Linked DNA regions of Homo sapiens. The protein of the gene in region 7 purifies or fractionates together with the protein of the main gene of each other region. This does not show direct contact. Each region holds a gene or a part of one and is shown on either strand. Other genes may lie near its edges.

What was found.
Region 1: the proteins of USP5 (region 7) and PPP1CB fractionate together in Homo sapiens (co-fractionation; one large-scale study listed by BioGRID). This does not show direct contact.
Region 2: the proteins of USP5 (region 7) and DCTN5 fractionate together in Homo sapiens (co-fractionation; one large-scale study listed by BioGRID). This does not show direct contact.
Region 3: the proteins of USP5 (region 7) and ATP6V1A fractionate together in Homo sapiens (co-fractionation; one large-scale study listed by BioGRID). This does not show direct contact.
Region 4: the proteins of USP5 (region 7) and IPO9 fractionate together in Homo sapiens (co-fractionation; one large-scale study listed by BioGRID). This does not show direct contact.
Region 5: the proteins of USP5 (region 7) and ITM2B purify together in Homo sapiens (co-immunoprecipitation; one large-scale study listed by IntAct). This does not show direct contact.
Region 6: the proteins of USP5 (region 7) and RAB11B fractionate together in Homo sapiens (co-fractionation; one large-scale study listed by BioGRID). This does not show direct contact.

Annotation. Positions count from the first base shown.
Region 1 is NC_000002.12:28,758,330-28,761,829, reverse strand, and holds part of PPP1CB (serine/threonine-protein phosphatase PP1-beta catalytic subunit), read right to left. Parts: intron 1-3,500. UniProt on the Homo sapiens protein: Protein phosphatase that associates with over 200 regulatory proteins to form highly specific holoenzymes which dephosphorylate hundreds of biological targets.
Region 2 is NC_000016.10:23,644,466-23,647,965, forward strand, and holds part of DCTN5 (dynactin subunit 5), read left to right. Parts: intron 1-3,500. UniProt on the Homo sapiens protein: Part of the dynactin complex that activates the molecular motor dynein for ultra-processive transport along microtubules.
Region 3 is NC_000003.12:113,753,535-113,757,034, reverse strand, and holds part of ATP6V1A (V-type proton ATPase catalytic subunit A), read right to left. Parts: intron 1-3,500. UniProt on the Homo sapiens protein: Catalytic subunit of the V1 complex of vacuolar(H+)-ATPase (V-ATPase), a multisubunit enzyme composed of a peripheral complex (V1) that hydrolyzes ATP and a membrane integral complex (V0) that translocates protons.
Region 4 is NC_000001.11:201,856,657-201,860,156, forward strand, and holds part of IPO9 (importin-9), read left to right. Parts: intron 1-439; coding exon 440-538; intron 539-1,790; coding exon 1,791-1,897; intron 1,898-2,198; coding exon 2,199-2,338; intron 2,339-3,500. UniProt on the Homo sapiens protein: Nuclear transport receptor that mediates nuclear import of proteins, such as histones, proteasome and actin. Serves as receptor for nuclear localization signals (NLS) in cargo substrates.
Region 5 is NC_000013.11:48,250,206-48,253,705, forward strand, and holds part of ITM2B (integral membrane protein 2B), read left to right. Parts: intron 1-3,500. UniProt on the Homo sapiens protein: Plays a regulatory role in the processing of the amyloid-beta A4 precursor protein (APP) and acts as an inhibitor of the amyloid-beta peptide aggregation and fibrils deposition. Plays a role in the induction of neurite outgrowth.
Region 6 is NC_000019.10:8,402,647-8,404,934, forward strand, and holds the end of RAB11B (ras-related protein Rab-11B), read left to right. Parts: intron 1-766; coding exon 767-912; 3' UTR 913-1,788; downstream 1,789-2,288. UniProt on the Homo sapiens protein: The small GTPases Rab are key regulators of intracellular membrane trafficking, from the formation of transport vesicles to their fusion with membranes.
Region 7 is NC_000012.12:6,855,150-6,858,649, forward strand, and holds part of USP5 (ubiquitin carboxyl-terminal hydrolase 5), read left to right. Parts: intron 1-205; exon of another isoform or gene 206-251; coding exon 252-377; intron 378-479; exon of another isoform or gene 480-605; coding exon 606-672; intron 673-867; coding exon 868-1,001; intron 1,002-1,155; coding exon 1,156-1,301; intron 1,302-1,557; coding exon 1,558-1,742; intron 1,743-2,479; coding exon 2,480-2,574; intron 2,575-3,274; coding exon 3,275-3,468; intron 3,469-3,500. UniProt on the Homo sapiens protein: Deubiquitinating enzyme that participates in a wide range of cellular processes by specifically cleaving isopeptide bonds between ubiquitin and substrate proteins or ubiquitin itself.

The DNA.
Region 1 (3,500 bases), on a different chromosome or scaffold from region 7:
AAGCATACAACAGTGTTAAATCACTTTTCACCATTTTATCCTACCTAGAAATACCTTTCCCTCTCAGCACCAACACTGATATGTCAAACCAGATTATAAACGCTGAATAATGGGAATAGTAAAGAAACTGTTATACGTACTTACATACAAGAATAGTGGTTATATGCAATAAACAGAAAGTGGAGGAAACAGTATCTGTCACATACTTACAAGAAAGCCTTCTCAAAATTAGTATGGGGAAGTTCCAGGACTCAGTGGCACAAAGAGCTCTCTGTTAGTATTTCCTAGCTCAGGTTTGTACTAAGCAATAATGACGGCTAACATTTTCTGACCTTTAATGTGTCAAGAATTGTTTGAAGGCACTTACTATCATATATGCAGAAGAAACTGGGGCTGAAATACACCCAGAATCTGTGTCGTTAATCATTATATAAGATGGCATCCCAATGTATCAATACTTATTAATATTTGAGTAAACACTTAACTGAGTAAACATCTGATTATCATTCAGGATTCACATAATTCTAGTAGTTGGGAGTCCGAAATTCACAAAAGCTATTCCTTTCTGTCATCTAAAATCAGACCTCACTCTTTCTCACTGACAGGTTTGCAAGTTTCTCCCCCTCAGAAGTCTGGTCTCGGCCGGGCGCGGTGGCTCACCCCAGTAATCCCAGCAATTTGGGAGGCCAAGGTGGGCAAATCACAAGGTCAGGTGTTCGAGATTTAGTGAAATCCCATCTCTACTACTAAAAATACAGAAAATTAGCTGGGCATGGTGGCAGGCGCCTGTAATCCCAGCTACTCAGGAGGCTGAGGCAGGAGAATCGCTAGAACCCAGGAGGCGGAGGCTGCAGTGAGCCGAGACTGCACCACTGCACTCCAGCCTGGACAACAGTGTGAGACTCCATCTCGGAAAAAAGAAAAGGTCTGGTCTTTTTGTCTCGCTAGTTTGGCTCAAGTATTTGATAGTAATTTAAATAAAACGCTCAATTCAAACCACATTGAGGAAACATACAAGTACCTATAAAGATTCCTTCTTAATTTACTATTTAAAGTTTTAAAATACGTGATTACAACTGCTAGATATGACATTAGTGAAAGCTATGTAACACCCAATATACCTAACCTTTTATTATGAAAACTTAGATTTTGATTTCTCCAAATCTTGAGAATGAGAGGTAGGACTAGGGGGAAGGTTAAAATGGTGTCAGACAAGTCCAGTTATGCATCATTTACCAAAGGGAAACTTCCTGAGAGATGCACAGTGAGGTGATTTTGTTGTTGTGCAAACATCACAGAGTGGACTTACACAAACCTAGATGGTATAGTCTATTGCTCTTAGGCTACAAAGCATGATGCACAGTATGTTACTGTACTGAATACTGCAGGCTACTGTAACACAATGTGCTTGTATATCTAAACATATCTAAACACAGAAAAGGCACAATGTATATACAGTAATAAAGATAAAAATATTTTTCTTTCTTCAAGAATAAATTAACCTTTGCTTACTTAACATTTTTTACTTTAGAAACTTAAAAAAATTTTTAAACATTTTGAATTTTCTAGTAACGATTAGCTTAAAACAAAAGCATATCATACAGCTGTACAATATTTTCTTTATATCCTTATCCTATTAAGCCTTTTCCTATTTTTAAAAATATTTTTCACTTTTTAAACTTTTGTTAAAAACTAAGCCATATACACACACATTAGCCTAGGCCTACAGAGTCAGGATCATCAGTAACACTATATTCCGCCTCCACATCTTCACTGGAAGGTCTTCAGGGGCAGTAACATGCATGGAGCCATCACCTCCCAGGATAACGAAGCTTTTTTTCCTGGAATGCCACCTGAAGGACATGCCTGAGTCGGTTTTAACTAGTTTTTTAAAATAAGAATATATTCCAGGGCCCTGCGTAGTGACTCAAGCCTGTAATCCCAACACTTTGGGAGGCCGAGGCAGGCGGATCACCTGAGGTCGGGAGATCAATACCATCCTGGCTAACACGGTGAAACCCCGTCTCTACTAAAAATACAAAAAATTAGCCAGGTGTGGTGGTGCACGCCTATAATCCCAGCTACTCAGGAGGCTGAGGCAGGAGAATCACTTGAACCTGAGAGGCAGAGGTTGTGGTGAACTGAGATCGCGTCACTGCACTCCAGCCTGGGCAACAAGAGCGAAACTCTGTCTCAAAAAAAAGAAAAAAAAAAGGTAAATATATAACATAGCTGTTTATTACCATTATCAAGTATTATGTACTCTATATAATTGTGTTATACTTTTTTTTTTTTTTTTTTTTTTTTTTGGAGATGCAGTCTCACTCTTTCGCCCAGGCTGGAGAGCAGTGGTGCAATCTTTGCTCACTGCAACCTCCACCTCCCAGGTTCAAGTGATTCTCCTGCCTCAGCCTCCTGAGTAACTGGGATTACAGGCATATGCATGCCACCAAGCCCAGCTAATTTTTGTATTTTTAGTAGAGATGGGGTTTCACCATGTTGGCCAGGCTGGTCTCGAACTCCTGACCTCAAGTGGTCCACCTGCCTTGGCCTCCCAAAGTGCTGGGACTACAGGCATGAGCCACCACGCGTGGCCTGTTGTACTTTTACACAACTGGCAGTGCAATAGGTTTACACCAGCACTACCACAAACAAGAGTAATGCATTGCACTATGACATTATGCCTATGATGTCACTAAGTGACAGGAATTTCTCAGTTCCATTCTAATCTTACAGGACCACTAACTACCTTACATGAAGTCCACTGTTGACCAAAACATCATTTGACAGAACATATGACTATACTCAAACCAAGAAAGTGTTTTGGTCACCTTGCAACTGACCAGATGGGAACTTCTGTTACTTAGGGATATTCTGATTAACATTCTTAGAATAAAATTCCTTTATGGTGAAATATGCTATGTTAAAACCTCCCAATTATGCAAGGGTGGGCATGCATCAAAAAGCAAACGCTATTCCCTCTGGGATATGCACATATCATCAATATCTCCACTTGTCTTTGCACAGATGCAGGTAAATTTGGCAAGGGAGGGTTCTGAGGCCAGTGATGTTCACGAAGGTTATACATACTCTCACAAATCACTGTGCTCCACATGTGAATAGTGCAGAGGCAGAATAAAGGACAACTGCCCCCGCCCTTTTTCCTACTGTATGACAAGTACCCATCTAGACCAAGGACTGACTTCCTCTATCAAATCAGGAAAAAACTGGCTACTGGTTATTTATACTTGAATAAGCCTTGAAATGGCTATTTAAAGCTGCTAGAAGCAGTGGCTGCTGCCTAAGGGTATCAATCTGTATCCAATCACAAATCCTAGAAGACTCCACTGGGAATCCCCATCTACCACACCACTGCTAAACCTACTGACATTTACAAACTATTTCTTCCCCTTGCCTCCCTATATGCCACCAACATTCGAGAATAACCTTTCAGAAATACATAACAGAATTTAAGTCAGTATTTCTAAGAATCTTAACAT
Region 2 (3,500 bases), on a different chromosome or scaffold from region 7:
AATTTTTTGTATTTTTATCAGAGATGGGGTTTCACCGTGTTAGCCAGGATGGTCTCAATCTCCTGACCTCGTGATCCACCTGCCTTGTCCTCCGAAAGTGCTGGGATTACAGGCGTGAGCCACCGCGCCTGGCCTAATTTTTGTATTTTTAGTAGAGACAGGGTTTCACCATATTGGCCAGGCTGGTCTTGAACTCCTCACCTCAGATGATCCATCCACTTCAGCCTCCCAAAGTGCTGGGATTACAGGCATGAGCCACCACGCCCAGCCCAAGATTTTTTTTCTTATGGTGAACTATGTATAACAATTTGCCATTTTAACAATTTTTTAAAAATTTTTATTATTTGAGACAGTTGCCCAGGCTGGAGTGAAGCGGCGCCATCTCAGTCGCCACAACCTCCGCCTCTTGGCTTCAAGGATTCTCATGCCTCAGCCTCCTGTGTAGCTGGGACTACAGGTGCACGCCACTACACTGGGCTAATTTTTGTATTTTTAGTAGAGGCAGGGTTTTGCCACGTTGGCCAGGCTGGTCTCAAACTCTTGGCCTCAAGTGATCCACCTGCCTTGGCCTCTCAAAGTACTGGGATTACAAGTGTGAGCCACTGCACCCAGCCTAACTATATATATATATATATATATATATATATATATATATATATATATATATATATATTTTTTTTTTTTTTAATACGCAGTTTTGCTCTTGTTGCCCAGGCTGGAGTGCAATGGCACGATCTCGGCTCACCACAACCTCCGCCTCCCAGGTTCAAGTGATTCTCCTGCCTCAGACTCCCCAGTTACAGGCATGTGCCACCATGCCCAGCTAATTTTATATTTTTAATAGAGGCGGGGTTTCTCCATGTTGATCAGGCTGGTCTCGAACTCCCGACCTCAGGTGATCTGCCCTCCTTGGCCTTCCAAAGTGCTGGAATTACAGGCATGAGCCACTGCGCCCAGCCTTACCAATTTTTAAGTGTACAATTAGTTGCATTAATTACATTCACAATGTTGTGCAACCATCTCCACTATCCATTTCCAAAATTTTTTCATCACCCCAAATAAAAACTCTACACATTAAGGAATACACGCCCATTCCCTACTTCCTTCCATTGCTGATAGCCTGAATCTACTTTCTGTCTCTATGAATTTGCCTATTCTGGATATTTCATATAAGTGGAATCATACAATATTTGTCCTTTTTGTCTGGCTTATTTCACTTAGTGTAAGGTTTTCAAGGTTCATCCTTGTTAAAGCACATCAGAACTTCATTCCTTTCCATAGCAGAGTAATACTCCATTGTATGTATATGCCACATTTCGTATAGGCACTTGGATTGTTTCTACCCTTTGGCTATTGGGAATAATGCTGCAGTGAACACTGATGTGCAAGTATCTGTTTGTGTCCCTGTCTTCAGTTTTTTTGAGTATATACCTAGGAGTGTATATACTCAATACTTGATTTGGCAATGTTTGGTATATACAAAAGAGCGTGATTGCTGGGACAAATGGTGAGTCTATGTTTAACTTTTTGGGAAACTGACAAATTTTTTTCCAAAATGGCTGCACCATTTTACGTTTCCACCAGCATTGTGCAGGGTTCCAATTTCTCCACATCTTTACCAACACTAGTTATTTTCTGGTTTTTTTTGGATTATGGCCATCCAAGGGAGTATAAAATGGTATCTCATAGTGGTTTTGATTTGTATTTCCTTAATGACTAATGATATTGAACATCTTTGAATGTTGCTTGTTGGTCATCTGTACATCTTCTTTAGAGAAATGTCTGTTCAGTCCTTTGCCTATTTTTATATTGTGTTGTCTTTTTCTTATTGAGTTCTAGGAGTTCTTTATGCATTCTGGATATTAAACACTTATCAGATATATGATTTGCAAATGCTTTCTTCCTTTCTGTAGATTTTGTGCATCCCTTTGATGCACAAAAGTTTTTAATTTTGAAGTCTGGTTTATCTGTTTTTTCTTCTGTTGCTTGTGTTTTTGGTGTCATATTAAGAATCCAAACTTATGGCCATGAAGATTTACTGCCGTGTTTTCTTCTAAGAGCGTTAATGGTCTTAGTGCTGTGTTTAGGTCATTGATCCATTTTGAGTTAATTTTTTTTTTTGTTTTTTGAGACGGAGTTTCCCTCTTGTCATCCAGGCTGGAGTGCAGTGGTGCAATCTCGGCTCACTGCAACCTCCGCCTCCTGGGTTCAAGTGATTCTCCTCTCTCAGCCTCCCAAGTAGCTGGGATTACAGGCATGCGCCACCATGCCTGACTAATTTTGTATTTTTAGTAGAGACAGGGTTTCTCCATATTGGTCAGGCTGGTCTCAAACTCCCGACCTCAGGTGATCTGCCAGCCTCGGCGTCCCAAAGTGCCGGGATTACAGGCGTGAACCACTGTACCCAGCTTGAGTAATTTTTTTATATGGTTTGAGGTAGGGGTCTAACTTAGTTCTTTTGAATGTAGAAATACAGTTATCCTGGCACTGTTTGTTGAAAATACTATTCTTTCCCTGTTGAATGGTCTTGGCACTCTTCTAGAAAATCAATTGGTCATAGATGAATAGATTTATTTGTGAACTCTCAATTCTATTTGGTTGGTCTGTATGACTATCTTTATGGAACACTGCACTGTTTTGATTACCATAGCTTTGTAATAAGTTTTCTGGTTTTTTTTTTTTTTTGAGAAAGAGTCTCACTCTGTCACCCAGGCTGGAGTGCAGTGGCACGATCTCAGCTTACTGCAACTTCCTTCTCTCAGGTTCAAGTAATTCTCTTGCCTCAGCATCCTGAATAGCTGGGATTACAGGCATGCGCCACCATGCTAGAGACAGGGTTTTGCCATTTTGGTCAGGCTGGTCTCGAACTCCTGACCTCAGGTGATCCGCCCGCCTTGGCCTACCAAAGTAGTGGGATTACAGGTGTGAACCACTGTGCTCGGCCTACTATAATAAGTTTTTAATCATGAATTATGAGTCTTCCATGTTTGTTCTTTTATAAGATTGTTTTGCCTATTGAGGGCTGTTTGCTTTTTTTTTTTTAATTTTTTTTTGGGGGAGGGGGATGGAGTATTGCCCTGTTGCCCAGGCTGGATGCAATGGTGGAATCTTGGCTCACTGCAGCCTCCACTTCCCAGGTTCAAGCAATTGTCCTGCCTCAGCCTCCCCAGTACCTGGTATTACAGTTGCGTGCCTCCATGCCTGGCTAATTTTTGTATTTTTAGTAGAGACGGGGTTTTACCATGTTGGCCAGGCTGGTCTTGAACTCCTGACCTCAGGTGATCTGCCTGCCTCAGCCTCCCAAAGTGCTTGGATTACAGGCATGAGCCACCATGCCTGGCTACCTTTTGCTTTTTAAAGATGTTTAATTTGGCAATATTTTGGGTATACAAAAGAATATATGTGACATATATGTCATAAAGCATAAAATTAAATCAACACCAGTGAACCCTATACCCAACTGAAGAATTGGAACATAATCTGTATACAATAAGTACTAT
Region 3 (3,500 bases), on a different chromosome or scaffold from region 7:
GCACTGAAACCAAGTGTGTTATATTCAAAATAATTTGTGGATTTTATAACTCATCTAAATAAAGCTCCTCGCTACCTCATTTTGCATTACCTACGACTAGGACTCACGGATTATCAAAAACTCACTTTTCACAAGAAAGGACCCAGCTATTCCTCTATTTAGCTAGCTACCACACTCTTAATGTTCAAATGCAATCTGATTCACTATTTAACTATTTGAACACTCTTACATAATTGCTTTGGTACATAAAATCAGCAACTTCACAATTATTAACAATTACAGCATTTTACTTTTTCAACAATATCTATTCAAACTTCGATTGATAGAATTTCAATGTATAAATCACATTAAGGAGTATTTCAAGTTATATCTAAAATACTTACTGTTATTTGAAAGTAGTAAGTCCAAAGGTCACACCTCTCATACTGACATTGTTACATTAATTCCATATGATAGTAACTTAAGCTATTACATGATGGTAGATCACACACAATTCAGGGATGCTAGAAATGTTAAAAGCACACCTTCCAAAGACCCAAGCTAAATGGCAGATTTTGGCAAATTACTAAGGACAAAGGTGAACTTCTGAACATCCCTAAATTGGAGAGCAATTTGGCAGTGCCCACCAAAATTCAAATTGTACTTACCTTTGACATGGCTAGTCCATTTCTAGGAATTTATTGTAGATGTACAAAATGTTCTATTAACAAAATATTAACTATAGCACTGTTTCTTAAGCAAAAGATTGGAATGTCCATTAATATGGAGGCTGGTTAAATACCTTGTAATACTATGACAGGCTACATGTTTAGCGGTATTATGGCAGCAATCTCTGGAAAGTGACTCCCTGGGCTCTAATCCTGAGCCCTACCACTTATAAACTGTGTGACTGTTGGACATTTAATCATCCCGTGCCTAGTTTTCCTCATTTGTTAAATATAGAAAAATAGTGCCTATCTCATAGGTTGTTATGAGGCTTCCATGAGTTAATAAAACTAAAGTATTAAGAAAGCATTTGGATCAGGAGTAAGCTCTCAATAAATGTTACATATGATGATGAGGGTATATTAATACAATTGAATACTAAACTATCATTAAAAAGAATGAGGCAGTTTTAACTGTATCAATGTGAAAAGATCTCCAACGTAATACTCAAGCGAAAAATGTAAGGTCCAGAATAATACGAAGAGGTGCTACCATTTGTGGATAAATATATGGGGGAAGAAAAGAATAAGGATGAGGGGAGAGAAAACACACTTGTATGAATATATAAATTTTACCATATTTGTACATGTATTACCCATTCAACTGAATTAAAAATATTGTTGGATGAGTAAATGAATGTTAAAACAACTGAGCCAAGTAAAACTATTATATATTGCACCTAATTGACTGAGCAAATAATAGCACATATTATTATTACATATATATTTTTCTGAGACAGGGTCTGGCTCTGTCACCCAGGGTCTGCAGTGGCACGATCTCAGCTCACTGCAACCTCTGCCTCCCAGGCTCAAGCAATCCTCCCACCTCAGCCTCCCGAATAGCGGGAACTAGATGTGTGTGCCACCACGCCTGGCTAATTTTTTTTTTTTTTTTTTTTGTACAGACATGGTTTTGCCATGTTGCCCTTCAATTCCTGGGCTCAAGCAATCCGCCTGCATCGGCCTCCCAAAGTGCTGGGATTACAGGTGTGAGCCACTGCACCCAGCTGGCAAATATATATACGGTCCTTATGTGCTAGTTATTATTCCAATCGCTTCTATTATTCACAACATCCAATGAAGTTAAATACTCTTATTATCCTTATTTTAAAGTTGAGAAAAATGCAATGCAAAAAGACACAAGTAACTCCTCCAAAGTCACACCACTAGGAAGCAGAGCCAGGATTTGACTCACACAGTCTGGTTTCCTTCATCTCTTTGTTATATTAATACTACTCTAAAATTATTTTTATTTACATATATCCCAACTCTTGTAAAAAAAACTTTGGACAGCTTACATTAAAGCACATATATGCAATTAATAAAACTGGTAATGAAAAGGGGAAGTAATACCAATGTGAGAAAAAAATACAGCTACTTTAAGTATGCAACAAATCCAACTCTAAAGCATCTGCTATTTTCTGTCTAGGCTTTGAATGATGTATTCTACGGAGATACTTTTAAAAGGACAGAAATCAAGTATTAAACAATTATAAGTACTTTTTATTTTGCTTCTTTAAAGAAGTTCTTGTTTAAAGTTTTCTTAAGGCAAGTTAATCTTGTAATCCAGTTTATATGCCAAAACCCAAATAGGGACTTTTCTTATGATTCTGTCATATGATTAAGTCAGGTGACAGATCCCACACTTGTGCAATGTGCTCTACACTCTAAGGCAGAAAGCGTGTCGATAGCACTGACTATCCATACCAAAAATAACATGCCAAATTTGTAATCCTATCTAGTAGTCCCTATCATTTTTTGGTACATTTTTCTTTTCTTTTTTTTTTTCTTACTTTTGAGACAGGGTGTCGCTCTGACGCCCAGGCTGGAGTGCAGTGGCACATTCGCAGTTCACTGAAACCTTGAATGCCCCGGGATCAAGTGATCCTCCCACCTCAGCCTCTTGAGTAGCTGGGACTACAGGTGCATGCCATCGTGCCCAAATAATTTTTTTAATTTTTAGTTTTTACTGGTAGAGGGGGGTCTTGCCATGTTGCCCAGGATGGTCTCCAACACCGGGCTCAAGCGATCTACCTGCCTCAGCCTCCCAAAGTGCTGGGATTACAGGCGTGAGCCACCATGCCCAGCCTGTTTTTCCTAATTACAGAAACACTTCATGTCCACTGTAAAAATAAAAACATATAATGTAAAGTGTAAGGAAGAAAGTAAATCATCTTAGTGCCCATTGTTTCCCATAATCCATCATATACACAGACATGTACAAACATGTAGTTTTATATAAATATGTTACTATGGATATTCTGTCTCTTTCCTTTTCTGCTTATTTCCTCTTTCCAACGGTGACAACCAGGTAAAAATATACAAAACTCATGGTGTTTTTCAACTGGTTTTATAAAAAATGAGTTATCATTACAAATGTTTCTCTGTACTTTGTATTTTTTTTTCTTAAGATACATGATGGCCTGGGCAATAAGGTGAAACCCCGTCTCTACCAAATATACAAAAAATTAGCCAGGTGTGGTGGTGCACACCTGTAGCCCCAGCTACTCTGGAGGCTGAGGCGGGAGGATAGCTTAAACCTAAGAGGAGGAAGTTGCAGTGAGCCAAGACAGCACCAGTACACTCCAATCTGGGTAACAGAGCAAGATCCTGTCTCAGGAAAAAAAAAAAAAAAAAGACACATGATAGAAATCCTTTCAGAATGTACTTGGAAATCCTTTCTAATCACCAGTAGATTTAACTCCTACCATTTAATCACTTCACAACATTCCATAAAATGCCTCGGCCATAATTTACATAACAATACCCCTATTAACAGGCATTCCCTTTGTTTCC
Region 4 (3,500 bases), on a different chromosome or scaffold from region 7:
TTTGTTTCAGTTTTTGTTGTTGTTGTTGTTTTGTTTTGTTTGCTTTTTGGGACAGGGTCTTGCTGTTTTGCTCAGGCTGGAGTGCAGTGGTGTAGACAAAGCTCACGGCAGCCTTGACCTCCCAGGCTCAAGCCATCCTCCTGCCTCAGCCTCCCGAGTAGCTGAGACCACAGGCATATGCCACCATGCCCAGTTGACTTTTTTATTTTTTGTAGAGGTGGGGTCTCACTATGTTGCCCAGGCTGGTCTCAAACTCCTGGGCTCAAGCAGTCCTCCCACCTTGGCCTCCCAAAGTGTCAGGATTACAGTTGTGAGCCATTGCATCCAGCAAAAGGCTAGAGTTTTTTCAGGATAATAGGTTGAAATCTTCCTGTATCTGTTGATGAAAAGCTATGAATCAGATTGGCAGCATCACAAAGACATAACTTGATCTTTTCAGATTAAAGTATGGACAGCCAACCCCCAACAATTTGTAGAAGATGAAGATGATGATACATTCTCCTATACTGTTAGAATAGCAGCTCAAGACTTGTTGCTGGTAAGTTTACCTTGATACTTCAGCCACATAATTTCTATCAGTCACTTGAGCATTTCTTCTTTTTTGTAGACAACTAATCCAAGGTGAGCAGTGTTGTTGGGTGGCTTTATCTCAGACTTTATTGGGGATGCAAGAGAGTTTCTGAAATGAAATTCGAGACTCAGAAATTCTAAAATCATTGCTACTGGTTCTAACTTAAAACTAAATATTAGATAAAAGAATTGTGCAGACCATAGGGCCGGGGTGCGGGGGAGAATTGTATAGAGGATAAAGTGTTCCATGGAGTAAGGGTAGTTGAATCAAGAACATTTCAGTTTATGGCTGGGCGTGGTGACTCACACCTGTAATCCCAGCACTTGGGGAGGCCGAGGCGGGCAGATCACCTGAGGTCCAGAGTTCAAGACTAGCCTGACCAACATGGAGAAACCCCATCTCTACTAAACATACAAAATTAGCCGGGCGTGATGGCGCATGCCTGTAATCCCAGCTACTCGGGAGGCTGACGCAGGAGAATTGCTTGAACCCGGGAGGCGGAGGTTGTGGTGAGCCAAGATTACACCATTGCGCTCCAGCCTGGGCGACAAGAGTGAAACTTGGTCTCAAAAAAAAAAAAAAAAGCCATTTCAGTTTAATTCACTCTTCAACAAGAATCTATAGCACAGACAAAAGGTTGGCAAACCTAGCAAAACAAAACAGATTGCTGAAAGATTAACATCCAAATACCTGCTCATGTTTTCTTTGCCTCTTCTGACTAGAGCATAGAGTTGTCTCTAGGCTGAAATACTAAGAAGAAACTGCCACTTGCTTCTTGTTGGGTAGGAGATTTGTTCTCTGTTGATGAATCACTTCTCATTATCATTTAGTATTTCTAAGGAGCTGTGAAAGATTATATTCAGTTCCAATTAGTAGATTAGACTTATTTTTCTATCATCAGTCTCCAAGAGAGCAAATATTTGGTCCATTGTCATCCAAAGCTAGATCTATTATTGCTCACTTATGCTCTGCTGAATATAGCCAAAGGAGCCAACTGGTTAGCCTTACAATGCCTAGGCACTACCGAAATACAGATACTACTTTAATTTCATTAGAGACCCTGACCTACTGGTATAACATTTTTAATACAATTAGGGGTTTGCACATGTATGTGAAAGAGCTTGAACCAATCACTTCTAACAGTCATGACTGAAGCGGTTTACAATTAAAATGCATTTAATGGGCACAAACAGATTTATTAGCTCTTCTCTCTCTATAGGCTGTGGCCACAGATTTCCAGAATGAAAGTGCAGCAGCCCTGGCTGCTGCAGCCACTCGACATTTACAAGAAGCTGAGCAAACCAAAAACAGTGGCACTGAGCACTGGTAAGAGTGAGCCGCTAATTGGTTAAGATGCTTTTGTTTACCCCTTCTTAAAAAGTCTTGAAAGGATGGATTTATTTTTATCTTAATTTGAAAATCTGGTTTTAATTTAATAACAGATTTTAATCTCTTATTATTAAAATTTCACTCTTTTCAGCTATAGGTTAGAATGGAAGGGCTTAAGGTAAATGACTCTTTTGGAAGAGATTGTGCTGGAGTGCCCTTTTCTGAATCTTGTTTCCTCAAATATTTATCTCTTTTGGCAGTTTAGTATGTTTTACTAGGCTGTAGTATCCTTTCACAGGTGGAAGATCCATGAGGCATGCATGCTTGCCCTAGGCTCAGTGAAGGCCATCATCACTGACAGTGTGAAAAATGGCAGGATTCATTTTGACATGCATGGGTTCCTGACCAATGTCATCCTTGCAGACCTCAACCTCTCAGGTATGTTTCAGCACGTGCCAGGATTCTAGAAACTCTTTAAACCTGTTGTGGGGTTGGGGGAGGGATCAGCATTAGGAGATATACCTGATGTAAGTGACAAGTTAATGGGTGCAGCACACCAACATGGCACATGTATACATATGTAACCTGCACATTGTGTACATGTACCCTAGAACTCAAAGTATAATATATATATATATATATATATATATAAAGGAAACTCTTTAAACCTGTCATTAACTTGGTTATATTGTTCACTTAGACTGGTAGGCCAGATATTCTTGTGTCCTTTGAGTGAAAATTGTTTGCACCCTACAGCTTGAACTCATCCGAACCTCTAAAACAGCCCAGAGGCCGATTCAAGCTTCACCTAATGACAATCTAATATTGCCTAGTTCATAATTCTTCCGTGATGTTTATGTTTCTTCCCAAATTGGCGTTCCCATTCATGGTTGTTTTTGGCATTTGAATGGAATCCAAATCTGGTTGCTGTACCTTGAGAATTATCGAGTACTGCTCCCATTGTTAAGTCCAGAATGCCCTCAGGCATTCTGTATCAGGCACATTCTTCCTGTTTGTTTCCTGTCATTTTTCTCAAACTTTATTTTTGGCCAATATCCAAATAATTAAAATGTTCCATTCTCATACCCATGTTAGCCATCTGTCTTAAAAAGAAAAAAGTAGGCCAGGCGCGATGGCTCATGCCTCTAATCCCAGCACTTTGGGAGGCTAAGGCAGGTGACTCACCTGAGGTCAGGAGTTCAAGACCAGCCTGGCCAACTTGGCGAAACCCCATCTCTACTAAAAATATAAAAATTAGCTGGGTGTGGTAGCAGGAGCCTGTAGTCCCAGCTACTCAAGAGGCTGAGGCAGGAGAATCACTTGAACCAGGAGGCAGAGGTTGCAGAGAACTGAGATCACACCACTGTATTCCACCTTGGGTGACAGAGCGAGACTTGGTTTAAAAAAAAAAAAAAGGTAGCCCTTTACTATTAGACCGATTTCTTCCGCAATACAGAGCAGTAGCTGAGAATCATTGTTGTCTATGTGGCATTTTCTGCTACTTGCTTCTGCCATGCCATGCCTTTTCTCATCCTTGGAGCCAGATCACCATCCGAAAACACTGCCTTTGCTTTCTCTCTCAGTACTTAAATCATGGAAC
Region 5 (3,500 bases), on a different chromosome or scaffold from region 7:
CCACAGTTTGTTTTACGTTATGAATTATGTTGCATCTCTCCCTTCCCTTATTATCACGCTGGCTGCTGGTATAACTTTTATGAATCATAAAAAATTAAATAACCAGGCTTTTTAAAAAAATAGATCTAAGTTGGCCGGGTACGGTGGCTCAAGCCTGTAATCCGAGCACTTTGGGAGGCCGAGGCGGGTGAATCACGAGGTCAGGAGATTGAGACCATCCTGGCTACACGGTGAAACCCTGTCTCTACTAAAAATACAAAAAATTAGCCGGGTGTGGTGGCGGGCGCCTGTAGTCTCAGCTACTCGGGAGACAGAGGCAGAAGAATGGTGTGAACCCAGGAGGTGGAGCTTTCAGTGAGCTGAGATCGCGCCACTGCACTCCAGCCTGGGCAACAGAGCGAGACTCCATCTCAAAAAAAAAAAAAAGATCTAAGTTTTATTCACTCATCAAATATATGAGTGCCAGCTAATGCCAAGCCTAAGCTTGGCTTGGAGCTACCAGTAATGCAAAATGAATATGAATGGATACTTAAAAGATCTTATAGCCTAGTAGAGAGAGATAAGATCTTTATGTGAATTATTCTCATGAAAGAAAAGTGATAATTAGGAATTTAGAGAACAAAGATTAGATAGACTTTGAAGATTAAACAGCTCTTCTATGAAGTACATGATGGTGGTGCATAGGTTTGGGGTCTATAATTTGGCTGACCAAAGACTCTTGTTTATTTCCTGATTCTTAAGCCACGTTTCACGTTGTTGAGGTGCTGAATAAATTGACCTGTGGATAAGTGAAGTATTTGTAAGTGAAATTCCTCAAGAAATTGAATTTTAAAAAAATATTCAATAGTGCTGAGAAGTGATTTTTGAATGAACATGAGAAGTCAAACTCTAGCATGGTTTACAAAGGTCTTTTGTGACCTGCACCAGCTTCTTGTCCATCATTTCTCATACTCATCTCCACCATATTGGGCACTCCAGCCAAAGCACATGTGGCTCTTGGAAATGTCATGCATTTTAGCTCCATAAATTTTGAAAAATCATTGCCATATATAAAATTTCCTTTAACTCTATCTTCTGCTGAGGTAATGAGTATTTGTCCTTTAACATTCCACTAAAGTATTTTCTCCCTTGGGAAGTCTTCCTGAAACTCATCCCCTCTTATGTGCTCTCTGTGCATTTTCCTATTAGAGTTTGTATCATATTTATTTTCTTTTTGTATATTTATCTGTTTTCCGGACTGATCTAACAGGTCTCTTTCTTGGCAGAGCATACATTTCCAGTGCCTAGCACAGCTCTTGGCACATAGTAGACATTTATAATTTATTCTCAAAATGATTGTTGAACAGTTAAAAATGATATATTACAATGCCTTGAAACTTGTCATCAATTTGCCAGTTGGGGCTGCGTATTCTTTTACAGATGTCTGCCTGTGCTGTTTGGCTATTCATTTATGTACTATTGGAAGAGAAAGCCTGCCAAATGGGGTGGGTGTGTGCGCACATTTGGCTGTCCCAGCAGCTGATACCAAATGTTGGAAATAACTATTTCCATCTGTCATTTTCATCCCCCCCACTCTCCTTCCACTCTAAAATTAATTATGTTAGGAATGATTTCTTACCTCCTTAGATATTTATGTCAGACAAGGGCTCAAGCAAAAGATGTATACTTCGTCATTAAAGTTTCATAATACCTTATGACTCCATGGAATTCTTGTAGCTTTCTTTTCACAGCTGGGATATCTTACATGGCTTGCTAAATTCTTCAGACTTATTCTCATTACATACTTTTCTTCCTTGCAATACGCTCATTGTCTTTCACACATAGTATATTGACAAGTGCTACAGAAACCATGACATTCTCATAGCAATGCACTGATTCTTAGAATACACATTGTTTGTTGTTCAGTGTTAAATTCTATGTTTGAAATCTCAACCTAGGAACACACTGTATCGTATCACATTGTTCTTGGTTGCTTCAACATCTGGGATTAGACCTTTTTCAGTTGTATCATGTTAAAGTTCCTCATTTTAGAATTAAAAACATATAATCTTAGGTTTCATTCGTAACTGAATTCTTGCTTCAACCAAATCTATGTTCTAATACCGGGGTCCCCAACCGCCAGGCCACAGACCAGTACCGGAACTGGTCTTGGCTAGGAACTTGGCTGCACAGTGAGCATTGCTGCCTGAGCTCCGCCTCCTCTCAGATCAGCGGGGGCATTAGATTCTCTTAGGAGCGCAAACCCTATTGTGAACTGTGCATGTTAGGGATCTAGGTTGTGCGCTCCTTATGAGAATCTAATGCCTGGTGATCTTCTGAGGTGGAACGGTTTCACCCCGAAACCATATCCCAACACCCCTCAGTCTGTCTGTGGAAAAATTGTCTTCCACAAAACTGGTCCCTGGTGCCAAAAAAGGTTGTGTAGTGCTGTTCCAATGACCGATCCTGTTTTTGTGCATCATTCATAGTTTTTCTTTCTAATTTTATATCCTATTATATAGGTTTAGGTGAAGTCTGCTTTCTGCCTTAAGCCTACTCCATAGTGGGTTTTCCAAGTAAAGGACAGAGTCATGTACTTCAAAGAGGCTGTTCATGTATACTATGAATTTTTGCAGTCTTTACTATTTATTGAGTGACTACTTATTTAAGTATCTTTGTTTTCTTAGCTCTTTGCACATGAACTTGGGTACAAATCAGAAATTTGCTGTAATTCTAAAGTGACAGATTAGAGGGATCAGGTTAGAAGGGCACAGGGAGGGAATATCTAGGAATTATGAATGTCATGACCCCAAATAATGTTCTAATGCTAAATTGTTTTCTTAAGTGGATAGAAATGAAAATTTTATAAAATTCTGTGCTAGTTTTGTTTCTTGAATTTATCAGTAAATTTTTATCATTGAATATGTTCTCATTTTTTTCTACTGCTTCTATCTTTAAAAGAAAGTGAAGAATTTTATCAGACCATGGTTTAGGGTAGAGCAGTGGCATAATAGGATTATGTATTTCTATGTATATAATTTTGTCCTATTTTTTGAAATTCTAATTGTTTAAATAATTTTAGTATCATTGTTTGTTCTTTTCCTTATTTTCCTGTAATTTTTTCTTGTGGATGGTTTAGAATAGTTTTATACCTGGTATGAAATATAAACCACCTGTAGCAGGCCTAACACATAATTTCATAAATGATCAGATAGAGAGATGCCCTGGATTTATAATGTACAAGGCTCATCATCATATTATGTGACTAAGTTGTAGCATAACCTCTTCTAAATTATTAAATTATAGAATATATCACCAAAAGTTGTGCATGGAAAGTAAAAATTATGGAGTGTATCATTGCTTGAGGCAGGGTTAGCAGGTAGGGTGTTGAGATTAGAAGTAGACAACTCTCCTAGAGACCAATGTCCCAGTCCAAGAACCATTAAGATGAGCCCTGGAGCTACCACTTAATCATTCCTGGGTTGATTTTGATGAGAGACACAACTCCTTTGGTCTTTGTG
Region 6 (2,288 bases), on a different chromosome or scaffold from region 7:
TCGTTTGCTTGTTTTTTTCTTTTTTTTGTCGGGGCAGGATGGATTTTTGCTCTTTGCCCAGGCTGGAGTGTGGTGGCTCGATCTCAGCTTACTGCAACCTCCGCCTTCCAGGTTCAGGCAATTCTCCTGCCTCAGCCTCCCGAGTAGCTGGGATTACAGGTGCCTGCCACCACACCCGCTAATTTTTGTAATTTTTAGTAGAGACAGGATTTCACAATGTTGTCCAGGTTGATCTCGAACTCCTGGGCTCAAGTGATCCTCCTGCCTCAGCCTCCCAAAGTGCTGGGATTACAGGCGTGAGCCACTGCACCTGGCCTGTTTGATTTTTTTCCACCACCACCCCTAACCTTTGCTTTTTAAACCTGCCGGTCCACCTGGACACTTCACAGGGTCAGACCAGGTCTAGCCCTTGCTGGCACTGGGGACACAGAGACCCCCTGGCCCCAGTTCCTGGGGATGGGCCCTGCCTTAACTCTTGGCGCTGCGGGGAGGCGGGTAGCCTCAGGGACCTGGAGCCTTTTGGCTTCTGGGAGTTTACCTCTGAGGGAGGAGGGCGCTTCTGATCTTAGGGAGCGAGAGGCCGGGGCTGGCTGTGACCAGATGTGGGTCCTGGCTGGGTGCGCAGCCCCTGTCCTTGTTACCCCTGATGTGATGGGGGCGCTGTGGGGGTCTGGAGAGGGCCTCTGGAGTCCTGCAGGGAGGGGTTCCCCTCGGCAGGCAGGGCACGTGCTGGCTCACCCCACGTCCCCCTGTACCCCCTTTGCAGAGATCTACCGCATCGTGTCACAGAAACAGATCGCAGACCGCGCTGCCCACGACGAGTCCCCGGGGAACAACGTGGTGGACATCAGCGTGCCGCCCACCACGGACGGACAGAAGCCCAACAAGCTGCAGTGCTGCCAGAACCTGTGACCCCTGCGCCTCCACCCAGCGTGCGTGCACGTCCTCCGCCCGCCCCCGCCACGGTATCCTCTGGCCCCTCCCTGCTGTCCCTCTGTGGCCGGCTCGTTCCAGCCCTCCCAGTGAGCTCTGCACGGCCGGGCCGGGGCCCAGGAAGGACAGGAGCCAGTGCTACCCCGTCCTGCCCGGGGAAAAGCTAGAAGCCCCGGTTTGCTGCACCCATGAAACTCGGGTCCCCACAGCGTCTTGGCGGGGTGGGGAGGGCGGCAGGATGGACGGGGCTGGCCAGAGGCGAGGAGGACGGGCGGACGGCGCCGCCTTCTCCCCTTTTCCTTGGCCGACTCTAGGGAGCGATTGCCTCCCTCCCTCCGTGACCGGGTGGCCCAGCCAGCCCGTCGTCCCCACCCAGAACCGTGCTCTGGGCCAAAGCCCGAAGAACCAGGCAGCGGGGGCCGGGGCAGGCGGACCCCCCGGGCTCTCAGCGCCCACCCGCTCCTCCGCACACAGCAGCTCGCACAGGCCTCCCACCTCTGCCTGTTGATTGATGCAGGGAGAAGCCCGTCCCCCCCTCTCCCCTCTCCCCTCCCCTCTCCTGCACGCAACGCGCCCTCTCGGCCCTCCCTGTCCCCCTCCTCTGTCTCGTCTCCCCATCTGGTCTGGAACCTGTTTGCAAGTGAAGCAATATCTCCGTGTTTTGTATATACAACCGCTCTTGTAGCCTTTGGTTTTTGTTAATGTAGAGAAACACAGATTCTTTATACACTTTGTAAGATTTACGCCAAACCCCAGCTCTCGATCTCTTCTTCTCCCTGTGGCCCCTGCGCTGTTGCCCCGTCCCCGTCACCCCGCCCGTTACTGAAATGTATAATCTGACTTCCTGTACAGAAACCTGCCGCTGCGCCTCTGTCTTCTTTCTTTTCCGCCAGGCGCCAGCTCCTAGGCTGAGGCCCCTCTCGCTGCACGTTCCCCAATGCAGGCCAGACCCCCCGTCTCCCCAGCCCACCCCACAGGAAGCGAGAGGACCCCAGCACCTGCCAAGGGCAGCGTGGAAGTCAGCCAGCGCAGTTGGGGTGGGCCCTGGTCAAGCTGCCCCTGTGGCAGGGAGGGATGGAAGGCTGCCGCTTGTCCTTGACTTTAAACTCCTGGGTCCTAGGACCTCAGGCCTGCGGGCGTCCCCTGATGGGGATGGGAGCCAAGAGCAGTGGCCAGGGTTCATCACTTTGTCTCCTGCCAGGGCCTCCCCTCCCCTGGGGTCCTGACGAGGGTGACTTGCCCAGTGGATGTTGGTGATGCCAGATGTCTCCACCCTAAACTGACACCGGAGGAGGGCCCAGTGGGGAAATGCCAGGGACAGCAAAATGTGTGGCATGGAGTTCCTCTTCCCAGGA
Region 7 (3,500 bases):
ACGATGAGCTGGTGTTCCTCAGCCCCCTGATGTCCTTGTTGGTTGTTATCAAAGTCATGGGAGGAAATGGGGAGAATCTTAGCTATGTCCCAGGTCCTAAAAGGCTAAATAACTTGCCAAGGGCCACACAGTGTTAGAGAACAGAACATTTCTTCTGGAACCCAGCAGTTTCTGACTCCAGGTTTTGGTTTCCTCACCTGACCAGGCTTCATAACATCCTCGTGTTTTCACCCTTACCTCTTGTCCCACAGGAGTCTGAGGGGGGCCTCTACATCTGTATGAACACGTTTCTGGGCTTTGGGAAACAGTATGTGGAGAGACATTTCAATAAGACCGGCCAGCGAGTCTACTTGCACCTCCGGCGGACCCGGCGCCCGGTAGGAGCAGGGCTGGGGCAAGGCCTGGGTACATTGTCTGTTCCATTCTGACCTCCTATTGGACTCAGTTTCTTTTTTTCACCTACTTTTGTGTCATTAAAGCTTGGCACAGATGTTTTTTAGCTTTATTCCGTTCTGAGATGAAGCACTACCTCCTTCCGTCCCTCCTCCCGACTTGTTCCTTCGCTCGTGCTCATTGCTGATCCAGCCCTTCCTGCTTCTTTACAGAAAGAGGAGGACCCTGCTACAGGCACTGGAGACCCACCCCGGAAGAAGCCCACGCGGCTGGCTATTGGTGAGCACCGCTGCAGTCCTATTCTTCTCCCTGAGCTGGTCTTTCTGGCTCTCAGCAGCACCAGGAAAGCCCCAAAGAGTGGGCCTGATTGATGGCCCTAGAACTCTGGATGGGGCAAGTGAGGTGCTGGCTCGGAGGAGGGACATTGACCTGTTGTCATTGCTCTACTCTCCCTCTTCTTCCCTATCCTTCCAGGTGTTGAAGGCGGATTTGACCTTAGCGAGGAGAAGTTTGAATTAGACGAGGATGTGAAGATTGTCATTTTGCCAGATTACCTGGAGATTGCCCGGGATGGACTGGGGGGACTGCCTGACATTGTCAGAGATCGGGTATGACTGCCCCCTATGCTACCCAAGATTCTAGAGCAAGATGGGCCAGGGTAGTGGTGTCTTAGGCAAGCACTGACAAAGCTGAAGGCCAAGGGGAAGAGGGGCATGTGGGGCAGGGGGTTGGGTATTGCCTCTGACCCTCTGCTTCCCCCAGGTGACCAGTGCAGTGGAGGCCCTACTGTCGGCCGACTCAGCCTCCCGCAAGCAGGAGGTGCAGGCATGGGATGGGGAAGTACGGCAGGTGTCTAAGCATGCCTTCAGCCTCAAGCAGTTGGACAACCCTGCTCGAATCCCTCCCTGGTGAGGCCTGGCCCCTCTGCCTCGGGCACCACCCCCAGAGCAAGGACAAGGAGCCCACTTTTCTGGGGGATCTGGTGGGAGAGAGGGTAGGGAGCAGGACAGGAAGGGAAGCTTGGAAATGAACACGACATGGGGATGGCCAGAGGAGAAGAGAGAGAGACCTTGGATTGGCGGGGGGCCTGCAGAGCCCTCTCTCTCTGCCACTCCCTCAAATCCCCGACCCACATTTCTGCTGATTCTCTTCTCTGTGGGTTAGTGGCTGGAAGTGCTCCAAGTGTGACATGAGAGAGAACCTGTGGCTCAACCTGACTGATGGCTCCATCCTCTGTGGGCGACGCTACTTCGATGGCAGTGGGGGCAACAACCACGCTGTGGAGCACTACCGAGAGACAGGCTACCCGTTAGCTGTCAAGCTGGGCACCATCACCCCTGATGGAGCTGGTACAGCCTCCCCTCCTCCAGCCACTCTCATGCTTAAATATATTTCATTTGTTAGTAATTTCGTGTGACATGTATAATACATGAATGCATTATCTTGATAAGAAAGGAAAGTAGTCAGGTGCGGTGGCTCATGTTTGCAATCCCAACACTTTGGGAGGCCAAGGCAGGAGAATTGCTTGAGCCTAGGAGTTCGAGACCAGCCTGGGCAACATAGTGAGACCTCATCTCTCCAAAAAAGAAAAAAAAAGAAAAATTGGCTGGGTGTGGTAGCTCCTGCCTGTAGTCTCACCTACTCAGGAGGCTGAGGCAGGAGGATTGTTTGAGCACCCGGGAGGTTGAGGCTGCAGTGAGCTATGATTGCACCACTGGACTCCAGCCTGGGCTACAGAGACCCTGTCTCAAAAAAGGAAAATACTGCAGATGAGACTAAATTTTTGATTACTCCCCACTCAAATCCTCATCCCTTTCCTACCAAGCCTGTCTTACCTTATCCTATACAGGTAGAATCAGAATCACAAGTAATTCCAACCCTCACCCGGTTTCATCTGTCTTCCCTGACCGTCAGCCCCAGAAGGGCCATGACCGCACTCATATTACTCATATTCAAGGGAACCAAGAGGGTGGACCTTACTGGCTCTCCTTCTGTCCCCTCAAGTCCCTTCTGTGCAAGGGATGGGATGGTGGCCTGGCTAGTCCTGAGCCACTTCCCCTGATTCTCTTCCTGCCTCCTGCTCTAGACGTGTACTCATATGATGAGGATGACATGGTCCTGGACCCCAGCCTGGCTGAGCACCTGTCCCACTTCGGCATCGACATGCTGAAGATGCAGAAGGTGAGACCCCCTTCAACTTCAGATTCTTCTACTTCCTGCCCCTGTGAGGGCCCTTCCTCTTTGCCTGAGGCTGAGGTAGGGTTTTGGAGAAATCTTCTAGTTAACCCCATCCCCAAGATACACAGGCTTCTTTTAAATATCTAAAATCATTTATTCAGTGAATAGTACTGAGTACCTACTATGTGCTAGAGGCTGTGTGAATAAGACAGATGTGGTTTTTGCTTACAAGAGTTCTACTCTAGAAGAAAAGGCAGACATTAGTCACATTCCCAGATAAATAAGTGAATAGTTGCAAACTGGTGGGCACTGTGAAAGAGAGGCGGAGGGTACTACAGTAATTGACAGCAGGGTGGCCTGGCCTAGTTTAGGGATCAGGGACATTTCCCTGAGGAAGCGATGCTTAACTGACAATGTGAAGGAGGTTAGGGGTAACTTAAGGATGGGAAAAACATTTCAGGTAGAAGGAAATTTTATTCCTCATTCAAGCAGAGGCCCTGATGACTAACGGGCCTCTGGGACAATTATGTGTGGCCTTCCAGAACTTGAACTGGACGATACTCAACATACCTCCCATGTTTGAGCCTGTAATTCCACAAATTCTAGGCCACAGTTGAGTATCATCCTAGACTCAGTGAGAGATCGAGGTAAAAACTACAGGGTTGAGTTTCTCACTCAGTCTGAAGTGCCCCTTCTCACACAGACAGACAAGACGATGACTGAGTTGGAGATAGACATGAACCAGCGGATTGGTGAATGGGAGCTGATCCAGGAGTCAGGTGTGCCACTCAAGCCCCTGTTTGGGCCTGGCTACACAGGCATCCGGAACCTGGGTAACAGCTGCTACCTCAACTCTGTGGTCCAGGTGCTCTTCAGCATCCCTGACTTCCAGAGGAAGTGAGTAGTGCCCTCTCCTTCCCCAGGCCCCC